2 separate regions of the Homo sapiens genome follow, and region 1 is linked to region 2. A link means that fine-mapping ties the variant in region 2 to the plasma level of a protein whose gene starts in the linked region. Region 2 holds a variant in brackets. A gene starts in the other region. All regions are shown on their forward strands.

What was found. PIP is the chance, under the fine-mapping model, that this variant and not a neighbour inherited with it causes the effect. Protein levels are from antibody-based Olink assays in UK Biobank. Linkage for the fine-mapping came from a reference panel and not from the study's own genotypes, which makes the PIPs less certain.
Region 1: SSC5D starts here. The variant in region 2 is fine-mapped to the plasma level of the SSC5D protein (UK Biobank, PIP above 0.99).

What each region holds. Positions count from the first base shown.
Region 1 is chr19:55,487,119-55,490,011 of GRCh38, forward strand. SSC5D (scavenger receptor cysteine rich family member with 5 domains) reads left to right here and starts at 1,318. Exons shown (of 14, transcript NM_001144950.2): 1 at 1,318-1,496; 2 at 1,888-1,914; 3 at 2,236-2,544; 4 at 2,764-2,877. The coding sequence starts at 1,472. NAT14 (N-acetyltransferase 14 (putative)) reads left to right here. Exons shown (of 3, transcript NM_020378.4): 3 at 1-448.
Region 2 is chr20:3,710,476-3,713,368 of GRCh38, forward strand. It overlaps SIGLEC1 (sialic acid binding Ig like lectin 1), which reads right to left and starts at 2,125. Exons shown (of 22, transcript NM_023068.4): 1 at 1,995-2,125. The variant T/C (reference allele first, on the strand shown) is at 1,223.

The sequences.
Region 1 (2,893 bases), not on the chromosome of region 2:
CACCCGTCAGCAGTGTGAAGTCTGTTGTGTTTGAGCTTCTCAGAGTGGAATGACTCCTTTTCCTTCCTGGCCCTCGGGGGCCTCTCGAGGTCAGCCTCTCCAACCCCTACCTCAGCTCCTGTCTGCACTGAGAAACCTCCCCGGGTGATGTCTGCAAAGTCTGTGCTGTCCGTGCCCCAGGCTGGGAGAGCTATCTGGGGAGGGGGAGAGGAGGCCGAGCAGAATACACCCCAGAGTTAGGGTTTGCGACTCCGCCTCCCTGGGACCTGGATTGGGTCAGATGCCTGTCCTTGGAGGGGACAAGGTTGACTGCTTAGGAGGCGCGACGCACAGGGCTGCCAGGCCTGGCCCCTCTCTGGGAAGGTTGAGAGCTGAGACGGGCAGCCCTGTCCCTTCCTCCAGATCCGTCTGGTTTTTTACACCGTTTGTTAATAAAGCCTGAAACCGCTGTGTGCCTGTCTCTTCTCTGATGGCTTTCCCAGTCTGTCTCCGGACACCCCCGCCCATTTCTGTCTGGCTTCTCCTTTCCCCAGTTAACATTAATTGTTGGGGGACGGTGCTGGACTGGGAGAAGGGGAGGCTGTGAGCTCAGGGGCAGCCCGAGGCCCTGCCAGCCCTTCTGAGTCACGCTCCCCATTACCGAATTTTTTCCGCCTCACAGCTGCCTGGTGTGCAGGCAGTGGGGTGTGTGTGTGTGTGTGTGAGTGTGTGGAAGAGTGTGTGGAGCCCCTCCCCTTCCCAAGCCTTGACCCTTGTGCTGCTTATCCCCCGACCCCAGCTCCCTCTGGGACAGTGAAGTTCAACCTCTCCTCTCTCAGCTGGGGACTGGGGGCTTCACACTCAGATCCACCAGTGAGTGGGAGGACTGGAGGGCCGGGTCTTTCAGTCTCTTTTCCTAACCCAGGAAGTCCCTCCTGGTGTCTGGCTGCAAATCTTCTTGCTGCTGCACCAAGAACCCCAGGTCTGCCCAGCCCCCAACCCTAGCAGTGGTCTCACTGGATTTCCCTGACCAGACAAGAGGGGAGACAGCAGGTGGGCGCCCCTCCCGCTCATGCTGCGCCCCCCCCGCACACGTCCCCCAACCCCTGTCCTGTGCCTTCCTGCAGCCGGCCACCCCCTAAGCATCTCTGGGCACAGCACTTTGCTGGCTGGAGCCTGCCTGGCCGTCGTCTCCATCTCCCGTGTGGGTGTCTGCAGTTGGACACCCTCCCTCCCGCCCGCCACCCCCCTCCCCCCCATGCCTCAGCAGACGGCCAGCCCCCTCCCGCCCCCCCTCCCCCCCACCGTCCCCTGCCGCCTCCCTGCAGCCTCTTTCTTCCTCCTGGCAAAGCGTCCAGCCCTGCCTGCTCCTCCTCGGGCCTGGGCGCCTCCAGCAGGCACTTCCCTCCCTCCCTCTCTCCCCAGCTGCCTCCTCCTCTTCTCTCCCCGCTCTCCTTCCCCTTTCACCCCATCCCCTGCCCTGGCTGCAACCATGAGGGTCTTGGCCTGCCTCCTTGGTGAGTGATCCATTCTCCTTGGGGACTCGGGGGGCCTAGGCCCCCACCTCTGACCCCTTAGCTTGTCCAGTTTAGGGACTCAAACTTCCGGGACTGGTCGCTGGTGCTCCTGCATACCCTGACATCCCTTCTGAGGATCCCTGCTCAATCTGCCCAGCCTTCTGCCAGCCCAGAAGCCCAAGGGACCTGCCCCCTGCCCGCCCCCCAGCCCTGACCCTGCGGGGGATCTCCCAGACATCTGACCTTTAGCCAAGCCCATGTGTGTGTGTGTGTGTGTGTGTGTGTGTGTGTGTGTGTGTGTTGGGGTATTCAAGATGAGGGGCCTGCGCTGGAGAAAGGGCCACCCCCGGCCTGCCCCTCACACTGCCCCACCCTCCGCCCTCCCTTCCAGCGGCCCTGGTGGGGATCCAGGCTGTTGGTAAGTGCCCAGACTCCTCCCATCTGCCCGCCCCCCCCCCCAGGCCTCCCCCTTCTGCCCATCCAGGCCTGGCCTCACCCCCACTGGGTCCCCGGCCCATCCGAATTCCACTGTGACCTTGGCCCCAGCTCCGCAAGGGAATCCCCCAGGTGTCTGGCCGCATCTCTCTGAGCACCCAGGAGTCTGGGCCCAGGGGCCAGTGAGCAGGGCCACTGGCCTACAGACAGTACCTGCAGGACAGCCACCTGCCCCTACAGTTGCCCTGGCCTTGGGGCCCCCAGGATGCCCCTCCCCAGTCACAGCCATTCCTCCAACCCTCAGAGCGCCTGCGCCTGGCCGATGGCCCCCATGGGTGCGCTGGCCGCCTGGAGGTCTGGCATGGCGGGCGCTGGGGCACCGTGTGTGATGACGGCTGGGACCTGCGCGATGCCGCCGTGGCCTGCCGGCAGCTGGGCTGCGGAGGGGCACTGGCCGCCCCGGGAGGCGCCTTCTTCGGGGAGGGGGCAGGGCCTGTGTGGCTCAGCGAGCTGGCTTGCCGGGGCAACGAGGGGCAGCTGGGCCTCTGCCACCACCGGGGCTGGAAGGCCCACATCTGCTCCCACGAGGAGGACGCGGGCGTCGTCTGCGCAGGTGAGGACACCCTGGCTGCTCCTTCAGGGGGAGCTCCTTTGGAGATGACCCAGGAACCCCAAGTCCTTAGCCCCAGCAAGTCTGAGTGTTCAGCAGTTCAGAGACACCCAACCTCCCATCCCCTCCAAAGCCAGGTGGCTAACTCCCTCTTCCAGGGACCCAAATGGCCTGGATTCCCCTCCTCTCCTCATAGCTTCTGTCCCTGCCCCCCCGCCGCAGGTCAGCGTGTGGCTAACTCCAGGGACGACTCAACATCTCCCCTGGATGGGGCTCCCTGGCCAGGGCTGTTGCTGGAGCTGAGCCCCAGCACGGAGGAGCCCCTGGTGACACATGGTGAGCCCAGGGGACT
Region 2 (2,893 bases):
CCTCCTCTTCTGGGAAGATGCACCCCCAGCCTCCACACCAGGTTCTTGGCCACTGGAGAATGATATAGCTGGGGCCCTGGGACCTGGACACCTCACCGTGAAGAAAAGCAGCCTGCTGGGCACACTGGGGGTCAGATGTGTCCCTGGCCACAGGGGATGTCAGGGTCAGCTCTGCTATGGCCAGGGCAGCTATCTTGTCCCAGCTCCCCTGTTCCTCCCATTTGGGGTCCTGAAAAGGGCAATCGTGAACCTGATGGAAGAATGGTGGGGTTCTGGACACAGCGACCCTGGAACAGGGCGCGGGGGAGGACCCTTTCCAGGACCACTCCCATCACATAATGTAGAGGCCACCTATGCTTAGCCCGGCCCTAACCCCAAAGGGGTCAGCCCCACCGGAATCCAGCCTATTGGCTCAGCCTGTCACCACAAAGGCCAGCTTCAGCCCAGATAACTGTTCTGGAAACAGAAAGAGCAGGGACCGCTCAGAAAGGAGATCTCTGTCCCTGTTTGAAAGCCTGGAGTTGAGGGGACAGTGCCCCGCCCCCCGCCCCCCGCAACTTGGGTTGCAGCTGTGGCCTAGTGAGCACGCAGCGCCCCCTGGTGGTCGAGGGGGAATTGCGGGTCCCGGGAAAGGGGGCGGTGTGCCAGCAACAGGGAGCAGGCAGCTCTGCAGCCCTGAACCATCCCTCCCTTGGGTGACTCTTTTGGAAATCATTGTTCCCCAGACAGGAGGTTCCTGAGGTTCATACTTGGGTCTCCAAGTCTTGGGTGCTCTGAAGACAGGATTTTAAATCCCCACTCCTACTATTGGTATGTGTTGCATCAGGGTGGCTTGAGCTGGCCTGGTACACAGTGGGCACTCACGTTTGCTGCCTGTTTGAGACCAAGTGCCTCAGGAGGTCTTGGAGGGTTGGCTGGGGCCCCAAGTCCCTGACCTCTGATTCCAGAGGCCAAGTTTAGCTGGGGAAGAAAGGGCAGAGGCAGTTTCCCTATGGACAGCTAGGCCCGGGTGTAGGATTCAGTTTCTGTTTCCTGACACCAAGGCTTCTCCCCAACTTCCCCATTGGGCTAGAGAAGGAAGAACACAGGGTGACATGGCCAGCTGGAGGTTACTGGCCCACAGATAGGGAGTCAGGGTACGGATGGGCAATTCCTGGAGCAGATTATGGTCAAAATAGTGGAAATCCCCAATCACAGGCCAAATGTTTAATTCTCAGAGCCA[T/C]AGAATCCATAACTAATGCTTATTGGCTTTGACATGGGCAGTAGAAATTTCACACTTCATTCCTTAATCTGGCTCTAAATGCTTCTGGCTGGAGTGCTCACTCTCCAAACTGTGCTGGACAGCACCAGAAGCCCTCCTGTGGACGGACGAAGTGGTGATGGATGAAGTGGAATTGTGCTGGGGTTAGAGTAAGGAGAGATTATCGTTGGGCTGGGCTGGGGCTGAGGTCAGGGTGATGATCAGGTTGGAATTCTGGAAGCAAATTAAGGCTGGGATTGGGGTGGACATTGAGGTTGAGTGATGGGTGGGGGTAAGGGTGAAGGTTGGAGTTGGGTGCAGGTGATGGTTAAGATACGGTGGAGGCTGGGTTGAGATGAGGATGATAGAGTCGGAGTTGTGGTTAGGGTTGGGATGATGGATGGTTGGGATTAGATGAGATGAGTAAATGGTTAGGGTTGGGGTGCAAGTGAGGTGAGGGTGAGATAAGGTTGGAATAGGGGCTGGGGCTGGGGCTGAGGTAGGGTCAGAGCAGGGTGATGGTCGGGACTGGGATTGGGATGCAGGTTGGAAGGATTTGGGGGTGGTGGAAGGGTTTCAGTTGAGTCCATCTTTGATTAGTGTCTTGGACTTGGGTTGGTTTGGGGTCCACCACTCGCACCCAGATGGAGCCCCCCCCCGACCCCTGCCCCTATCCCGCTCAGCCAGTTTCAGCCCAGCCCCGCTCCTAATGCTCCACTCACCCTCTGGGCCCAGGGACCAGGGACAGGGGTACCTGCTCCACAGAAGGAAGTGGCTGCGGCGGTGCTGGACCTGCGGAGAGGAGAACAGGAAGGACGGCCAAGAGCTCCTGGTGCAGCTGGCTCCCCAGGGCTCTGCCGGCTCAAGAGAGAAGGATCCCGTATCAGGGGCTGCTTCCTCTTTCCCAAAGCCTCAGCTCTACTGTCCAACCCAGAGGCTGGTCAGGGAGGCAGCTGCAGGCCTTGCGCAATGCCAAAACGGGAAAGACCTCCATAGGGGAAGGCCCTCGGCAAGGCCAGGGACTTAGGGACTCCAGCAAGCAGAAGTGGGACCGCTGCAACGCTGGAGCCTCCCCAGGCAAAGTGAGAAATGGAGTGGGGGACTCCCATTCACCAGCCAAATCCACACCCCACTCTCTCTGAGCCCCTTAGGGAGGCTGGGGGAGGTGGAAGGGGGCTTCCTGCACACAGCTCTCCTCCCTGACACCTGAGAGGGAGGCGCGCCCAGCCTGGGGTGGGGATGCACTACACGATGCCCAGACCAAGGCAGTTATTCTCCAAGCCATTCAGGAGCCTCCCTGTACCACTGAGTACTCTTAAGAACCCCCAAGAGGCAGTCCCGTGTTGTGGGGGACATAAGGCCCCAATGTCCAGGACACTCCTCAGGTTTTCTCTTTCCCCTCTCACTGTCCTGTACGTTTTTTGGTTTTTGGCTTCTTGTTGTTGGTTTTTTTCTTTTTGTTTTGTTTTTGCTTTTGAGATGGAGTCTCACTCTGTCGTCCAGGCTGGAGTGCGGTGGCACAATCTCAGCTCACGGCAACCTCCACCTCCCGAGTTCAAGTGATCATCTTGCCTCAGCCTCTCGAGTAGCTGGGATTACAGGCATGCACCACCACATCCGGCTAATTTTTGTATTTTTGGTAGAGACGGGGTT